Regions from separate parts of the Homo sapiens genome. Here region 1 is linked to region 2. Evidence: fine-mapped expression QTL. A gene starts in region 2. The other region holds a variant in brackets. All regions are shown on one strand. Distances are between the middles of the regions. Region 1 overlaps CFAP210 (cilia and flagella associated protein 210). Region 2 holds the start of CFAP210 (cilia and flagella associated protein 210).

The links. PIP is the estimated chance that this variant, and not a neighbour inherited with it, causes the effect. A credible set is the group of variants that fine-mapping cannot tell apart.
Region 1: its variant is the best candidate, but not a certain one, in a credible set for the expression of CFAP210 in whole blood (INTERVAL, PIP 0.50).

Annotation. Positions count from the first base shown.
Region 1 is chr2:169,669,999-169,674,398 of GRCh38, forward strand. All of the region lies in intron 4 of CFAP210 (cilia and flagella associated protein 210), which reads right to left. Among named protein-coding and RNA genes, the nearest start is that of CFAP210, 22 kb to the right of the region's middle. The variant G/A (reference allele first, on the strand shown) is at 1,773.
Region 2 is chr2:169,692,613-169,697,012 of GRCh38, forward strand. CFAP210 (cilia and flagella associated protein 210) reads right to left here and starts at 1,793. Exons shown (of 9, transcript NM_001085447.2): 1 at 1,649-1,793. The coding sequence starts at 1,715. PHOSPHO2-KLHL23 (PHOSPHO2-KLHL23 readthrough) reads left to right here and starts at 1,857. Exons shown (of 5, transcript NR_144936.2): 1 at 1,857-2,010; 2 at 2,603-2,635. PHOSPHO2 (phosphatase, orphan 2) reads left to right here and starts at 1,857. Exons shown (of 4, transcript NM_001008489.4): 1 at 1,857-2,010; 2 at 2,603-2,635. RefSeq lists an enhancer at 1,576-1,755 and a silencer at 1,886-2,165.

The DNA of each region.
Region 1 (4,400 bases), 23 kb before region 2:
TCTACTCTTTCCCTAAATAATCTTTATCTAGGAAAAAGTGATGCAAACTATCCTATGACCATTTTTTCTTTTTTTGTGTGTGAAGCTGATGGGATTAACAGACAGTAATTAGTGAGTTTTTTCTTAAGCAAAGTCTATGTGTCTGTTCCTAGAGGAAGCCTTACCTATATATAGAAGAAAGAAGACCTATACAGTGTCTATAGCTACGGTGTTAAGTTTCTTTTTAATAATTATGTGTAAGATTCCTGGTCAAAATCCCTCTATTTTGGGATTTTGGTGTCACTGTGGTATCTTATTTGTCTTATCGCCGTCACACCCACTGGGCTATGAGTCACACAAAGACTCTTATACTAGTCAAAGCCCCACAGTAGCATAGGATAGATTGTTTAGAAAGCATGTGAAAATTTTCACTTTCAGGCACAGGGCCAGCAGCTGTGCAATATGTTTCAGTTTTATATTGCTGAATAACTAATTACTCTAAAACTTAATAGCTTAAAACAATGAACACTTATTATCTCATACCATTCCTGAGAGTCAGAAACCTGGGAGTGACTTAGTTGGATGGTTCTCAACTAATGTTGTAGTCAAGATGTCAGTTGAAGCAGTAGTCATCCAAGGGCTTAAATGAGCCTGGAGAATCCACTGTCACATATTTGGTGTCAGGATACCTCAGGTCCTTGCCACATGGACCTCTCCATTGATCTGCTTGAGTATCCTTACACCACAGCAGTTAGGTTCCCCAATGAGCAATCCATGGGAGACAGCAAGGAGGAAGCCACATTGCCTTTAGTATCCTAAGCTTAGATGTCACACACCATTATTTCTGACACATTCTATTTCTTGGAAATGAGTTACTATGTATAGCCACACTTAAGAGGGAGATAAATTGGGCTCCATCCTCTGAAGGAAGGAGTATCAAAGAACGTATGGAAATATTTTAAATCACCGCAAGGTAGCACTTGGTAATACAATTAATAGGGCATGCAAAAAGAGACTTGCCCCTTGGTAATCTGCAATTTCCATTTCTTTGTGATTAAAATAATTAAAATACGGTCTCTGCCCAAAGAAGACAGTCATTCCAAATTTTGGCAGGCCTTAAGGCACATGACCTACAAAAGACACCATGAGCCGATCCTAGCCTATCTCTCCAACCTTATCTTTCACAATGCCCCCTTTGTCTTTTATACTACAGCCATCTTGACTACTTGGAGTTCTCCAAATCCACCATATTCTATCCCACTCTGGGCCTTCACTTGTGCTTAAAATACCTCTACAGCCCACTTTTAGCATGGCTTATTACTATTCATTCTTTGAAATTAGGCGCAGGAACCAGTTTCTTCTGCAAAGCCTTCTCTAGACTGGGTCAGATACTCATTTTACATGCTTCCACACACCCTCTACACATATTTGCCAAAATATTTATCATTACATTCTAATTATTTGTTCCATTTCTGTACTCTCCACTCCCAGATTCTGAACTTCTTTTTGAGATGGAGTGTCGCTCTTGTTGCCCAGGCTGGAGTACAATGGCACGATCTTGGCTCACTTCAACCTTCGCCTCCCAGGTTCAAGCAATTCTCTTGCCTCAGCCTCCTGAGTAGCTAAGATTACAGGCATGTGCCACCATGCTTGGCTAATTTTGTATTTTTTTAGTAGAGACAGGGTTTCACCATGTTGGTCAAGCTGGTCTCAAACTCCTGACCTCAAGTGATCCACCCACCTCGGCCTACCAAAATGCTGGGATTGGGAGGCGTGAGCCACCGCGCCCAGCC[G/A]TGAACTTCTTAAGAAGACTACATCATATTCATCTTTGTATTCTCAATGACTAGAATAGTGCCTGGCAAAAGGAGGTTGTTCAATAAATGTTTGTATGAATGAATGAAGGAATATCCTAATGAATGAATAAATAGCCTATTTTGAAATTTTGCTCCTGAATAAACTCTTATTCAAGAAAAGGGAAAGTAACTCTCCTTTGCATCTCTTTTTTGCTACATGCTCCTCTTCCCAACTCAGGTTAATACCAGTGCTACTATTCCATTTCTATTGGTTTAAAGAGGTTTTTTATAGGTTCATCCCTATTCGTAACAGTATTTTAAAGTAACATGCATTCTGAATTCTATAAAACCCATACATGAATAAACATTAAACAGAATATAGCTTGGCGATAAGTTTGTAAACTCATACACTTAAACAAATATATAATAATAGATTTATAATTTCCTATGTTGTTTCCAACTACAGATTTGAATGTTTCTTATTAAATTTAAGCTGTAGGACTTTGGAAACAAATTGGCAACCCAGGTTCACATGTTGAACATCTCTATTAGTCAGGGGTTTTCCAGAGAAACAGAACCAAGAGGGTGTGTGTGTATGTGTGAGTTTATTTGGGAGAATTAGCTCACACTATTACAAGGCGAAGTCCCACAATAGTCTGTCTGCAAACTGAGGAAGACAGAAACCCGTAGTGTTCAGTCGGAGTCCAAAAGCCTCAAAACCAGGGAAGCTCACAGTGCAGCCTTCAGTCTGTGGCCAAAGGCCCAAGAGCCCCCAGCAAGCTGCTGGTGCAAGTCCCAGAGTCTAATGACGGAAGAACCTGGAATCTGATGTCCAAGGGCAGGAAAAGCAGAAGGAAGCATCTGGCACCAATAGATAAGGAAGCCAGAAGGCTCAGCAAGCAAGAGTAGCCTACCTTCTTCTACCTGCTTTGTTCTAGCTGTGCCGGCAGCCGACTGGATGGTGCCCACCCACCTTGAGGGTGGGTCTTCTTCTCCCAGACCACTGACTCAAATGTCTGTCTCCTCTGGTGACACCCTCACAGACACACCCAGAAACGACACTTTACCAGCCATCTAGGCATCCTTCAATCCCATCAAGTTGACATCTAATATTAACCATCACAACATCCTCCCTCTCCTAATTCCCCAAAATGCAACCAATATAAAGGAGAAATTCTATACCACTGGTCTTACCCACATAACTGAATTTTCAAGAGATTTCAAAAGAAAATAGAACAGTTGAGAGTACAGTGAGGATAGGTAACACTTGGTCACCATGCACAAGGACAAAGCCCACCATGAGAAGTAAGTAAAGGAATTTATGCTGACGTCAGAGCTTGATGAACATTTCCGAGACTGCACTGAAGATATGCCAAAGAAACAACGAAAATAAATCCTACACCAGCTTGAACCTCTAACCTACTGACACATACTACAAGGAAAAAACACGATGTGGCCCAAACACAGCCCAGATACAAAGGCTATAGGAGGATAGACAGCCTGTGAAGGTGTTAGCACTTGCCAGGTAGCTTGCTGGAAATCTGACTGCCACCTCTGAGCTGCAATATAACAAAAGAGATTTCTCAAACACAAGTGATTCACTGGTCAAAGACTTGCCTTCCTCTGCCAATGGCTTTGTCCCTAACTTGCACAAACCTTTAGATCTCTACACTGCCAAAGAAAAACATTACAATAAATCCAAAGGTTTTTCTTCCCTTGTTACTAAGGACTGAATTGAAAAATACACAATTTGGTAATATATATATATTCTGAGAACTGATGTCTGTGTCATTTAGACATAATGTGATTTTGATAAATTATATATGTGACATACAGGTATGTGAAAAAAGCATGTAATAAGACAATGCTGCTAATTCAAATTTCATTTTATAAAATGTGAGTATATATGTTCAGGAAAAAAGTCTGTGTCGCCAGATCAATGACTGCCAGAGGCTGGGAACAGGAGATAGAACTTAGAGCAAAGGGGCATGAGGGAAATTTTGGGAGTGATGGAAATGTTCCATATCTTGATTTGAGTGGTAGTTATGCAGCTATACTTTTTAAAAGGTGAATTTTACTGAATGCAAATTTTATTTCAATAAGGCTGATGCCTCCTTCATTAAAAAAAAACTCTGCATGGCTATATACCAAAACAGTAATAGTAACTTCCTTTGGTAGTTTAGATTTATTATTCAAAAAAGATTCACTCCCTTCCCCTTCCTGTCTCAATTTAATGGAAGTCTACTTCTCTGTTCCATTATTGTTGTTGGGGTTGGCCATGTGGTTGCTTTAGACTGATGGAAGGCCAAGTATACTTCCTTCTCCATTGACTTTGGGTTACGCTGTGTTTTTGCATGCTCAGGCTTGCTCTCTTGCATCTCTATCAATACCATGTGAAAAGTTTCCCCATGTGGCTGCTTCATCCTGAACCTCAGAATGTATACACATGGAGCGGATCAGAATACTCTCCACAACAATAAGCAAACCCAGCCAGTCCTACAGCTTGAAGAAAAGCTGCCCAGCTGATTCCAGCCTAGATCAGCCAACCCCCAGATGCATGAGAAGTAAACATGTTTTTTTTGCATGCCACTAGATTGTGTGGTTGTGTATTATGTTGCATTATTATGA
Region 2 (4,400 bases):
CTACCTTCCAACATTTTTACATTGGGGATTAAGTTCCCACACATGCCTCTGATAGCTGTGATATTTAAAATTGCCACTGAACATTTGACAAACATACTTGGTGAGTTTGAAGTCAGACTAAATAACAATAAGCCTCATGAGTGAGATTTTCCAAGGAACTATCAAACATGTCGAATAATAACAGTTGTCTGGCTTTGGAGTGGGTCAAATTCTGTTTTGTCCCCTCTACCAGTTGCTAAGTCACTATTTTTCACTGTGATTACTGTGGTTATCTAGGCTGACACGGGGCTGGGAGAAAAGTATAGGACTATGGCAAGTTAAAATGCCAAAAACCTTGCTGTTGTTACAAAAATCCAGCTGTTTTTCTTTAGTAAACACTCTACAAATTGTTGCAAGCCTTTGGTTAATTTCCAGAGTTCTGAAAAAGTCGATATTGATGATTTTTGCCACTGTTCTTGTTGATTTTATGGAGGAGAGGATTTCAGGCATAGATCCTATTTCACCATTCTGGCTGATGTCATCCCACTAAATCTTTATAAATTATTTATTTTACTAATAGCTGCACACATCTCTGAACCTCTCTCCAACTTAGCCTTCCCCTAAAAATGGAGATTAAAATTTAGCAGTGAGGCTCAGGTGGAAGCTTTTGAGCTAGTTGCCACAAAACATTATTTAACAACTATTAGGTAAATCTAAACCAGGTAGTGCAGAAATGCATATGCAGGAAAGTGAATGTGTGGGACTAATTGTGCTTTTCCAAAACTGGCCATGTTGGTACTGTTTCTTTCCTTTTACATGGCAAAAGTCCGCTGCTAACCTCATAAAACCTCCACTGCATAAATATCCACTAGTGAAGAATGACTGGCTGTCACTCTGCATCTGGTGCAGGGGGCACTATTGCTACAGAAGCTCGGGCAATGACATGAAGATACTTCAAATTGCCAAAGTTCTAGTTGTCACCATGACAACATTAATTGCTAATTTACAGACGTAAGAAACTGTTGTAGCTAGAATTGATAGAGTTCTTTAGAAGTCTATTTCTATTCCAAAATCAAATTGTTATAACAGGTCACCTGAATTACAGTACTTTATGTCACACGATTTTTTTTTAACTCTCTAAAAGCATTTGACTTAGAGAGAGACCTTATATTTACTTTAGAGAGGAGGAAATGGAGATATTTCCTTCAGAGACTTTTAGTAAAGACCAATCAGCAGGTTTGCAGAAGAGCCAAGCCTCTAAAGAGGTGACTTATATTTCCAAGAGATATTCCAATTCAATCAGTGAATAACAAACTTTAAGCGTGCGGGAAATTTAACAAAACCCAGACTCTCAGAGCTGCAACTGCGCAGTTTTAGGTCAGCTGGGGCTGGGGGTGGGGGTCTCTGATTTCCTATCTTTTCTCCACCCCTATTTCTGTAAACATTCTCCCACCCACTTCCACTCCCCGTTTCCCTCCTTCACCCATTCACCTGAGGGCAAGACGGCCTAACTTCACACAGAGCCCAAAGATGCTTATTGAGGATGCTTTCGACCTGGTGGAGTCCATTTCAAAAGGCAACTGAAGCCCTCATTCGGCATCCTCGCCTCTCACTCCATGCCGGGGGTCCAGAAACAATCCCTGTCCCTGGATAGGTCAGTTTAGCTCACCTGTACTTTCCTTCGCCCGTCCACAGCGCCGTCCAAACCGTACCAGCATCTCTGACGAGGTGTCCATGATGCTCCTAGATCTGGAAAAGTGACTGTGGCGCCAAGCGCCGCGGACGCCAGCCGGTGGAGTTGTTACTCGTACCACGCGGTTGCTTGGCAACGCCGCCGGAAGTGACGCCAGCCGTAGCCGAGGAACAAGGGAGGTGCTGCAGTTGGCGGTCGGGCTAGAGAAGAGAGGCGCCTGCGCTTGCGAGCTGGGCTTGTGAGTGGGGCTGCCGAGAGGGCAGGCGTGGGGCGAGGCCAAAGGACTGAACCCGCAGGAGCGTCACGGGCGCCGGGGCGGCTGCCGACGGCGGGACTGGGTCAGTGAGAAGCCCGTGGGCCCCCGCCCTGCCTGCTACTCCCATCCCCACCTGCGCGCTCCCCATGGGGGACGACCCCCGATTGGGTCCGATGCCTACCCTCGGGGTGGAGCCGGCAGGTGTGTGAGCGCGCGAGGCCTAGGCGTGGTGTGTGCGTCCGCAGATCTCCTCGCGGGTGGAGTGTGAGGAGCAAAGCCCTCCCTTAACTATAAAAACCCGCGGATTCGCTGACATAAACGCTGTTTTTTTAATCCTTTGGTTTCTGAGGCATGGTCAGGACTAGATGGGGCCAAGTTTTTTAAAAATAGGAATGTTAAAACGTAATGATATGCTTAGAATATTTACGTTAGGACCTTTGAGATATTTTAAATTTCTTGGTAAATACATGACCACAGAAATCTGTTAGGAGTAGCTGCGCGTTTGGTTTCAAAAGATGCTTTTCTAACACATTGATGTACAGATAACTTCATTACTAACAAGTTGGCTCTGACGTGTACACATAATGCACCAAATTGGAGTCTCTCAAAATGAAAGAACAAAAAGATTTTTAATAACGAATGTTCTAACACATAGTCGTGCTATTTTTCTTTAGGTTTTCTATCAGATGTTCCACGTAATAATGCTGGTAAGTATGGAATAATTAAGAAAATATTTGAAGACAGAAATTAGTTTGTGCACATACAGCGCTGGTAGGTTTTTGGAACTATACCTTAAAAAGTGTCAAGAACTGGGGGCCAGGCGCGGTGGCTCACGCCTGTAATCCCAGCACTTTGGGAGGCCGAGGCGGGCGGATCACGAGGTCAGGAGATCGAGACCATCCTGGCTAACACGGTGAAACCCTGTCTCTAGCAAAAATACAAAAAAATTAGCCAGGCGTGGTGGCGGGCGCCTGTAGTTCCAGGTACTCTGGAGGCTGAGGCAGGAGAATGGCGTGAACCTGGGAGGCGGAGCTTGCAGTGAGCCGACCATCGTGCCACTGCACTCCAGCCTGGGCGACAGAGCGAGACTCCGTCTCAAAAAAAAAAAAAGTTTCAAGAACTGGGAAGGAACAGAGATTTTTACCCTGTTTGCAGGCTAACTTAGCCTGGCAGTTTCATGGAAGACACAAGACTATTCATTTCAGGAATGAATTACTCCCAGCAGTAGCCAGTAAATCAGCAATTTCGCCTGAGTTCCCTAAAGCCCCAGTTCCCACAGGATAATGCAAAGTGGGCAAGAAGTCACCTAGATGTAGTGTGTGTCGAATTACAGGAAAGGAGCCCTGAGCTTAGGGAACCCAGATCTTTATCATTTGGACAAATAAGCATGTTTCTCAAGGCTGTCCAGTGTACAAACATCCTTGAGACAATAGTCTAGAGGAAAGGGCAGTCAGTAAGACATGCAGAACCACCAGAGACGCAGGGAAAATTGTCTCCCAACAACAATTTTCTGGAATTTTAACAAAATTGGTTACAAAAGTATTGAATCTCATGATTTGATGTCAGTTACTTGCCAATTTGACATGGTGGTCAGATATAATTTGACTTCAGACTCGAGATTCCAGCTCCAACCTGTGGATTGTCACAACCAAGTCAATCTAGAGTTATTTGTCCTATACCCACCACTCTTTTATTTCTTTGTTGTGAATTTAATAAGGTAGCATATGCACTCTGATCTGAAACAGAGTTTAAATTATTCTGAGAAGAAAAAAATTTTATTACAAAATTGATGTAGAAAAAGTGTGAACTACGGTTGAACCAACCATAACCATCCCACTGCACATGTAAACATTTTCTAAAACAAAAACAGGATTATACTGTACACACTATTTTGTGACTTGCTTATTTAATTTGAACTGAATATCTTGGCTTTTACTGGCTGGATATTCTGTTATTTGCTATCACATGCATATCTTACTTAATTATTTCCCAATTCTTGGATGTCTGTGTAGTTTTTAATTTTCATTATTGTGTAAAGTATGCAGGATATTGTTACACTATGGAAACATTGCAGACATACCAAATAGACATAGATTGTGCTTTTGAAGAGAACAGTTAACTTTTTGGAATTTTAACAAATTGGTTTCAAAACAGATTCACATTCTTAAAACTAAATCTTTGTTCATATTCTTAATTTTTGGAGACATTTTAATTTCTAGTACAGCACTAAATGTCTATTGACAACAGAATGTGGAACTCCTCTATTATTAAACAAGTACAAAGAAAAAATGGACTCTGAAAATCTCAATCAGCTTAACACTGATTTTATCCACTGGACAAAAACTTATTTTCACATAACATTTCTTATTTTCGACACCAAGTCGATACCAAGTGGAAAGCAAAACTTTGTTCTCCTATTGCCAAAAGATGCTTTTCTGACATTAGAAAAACAACATAATTAGAAAATACAAA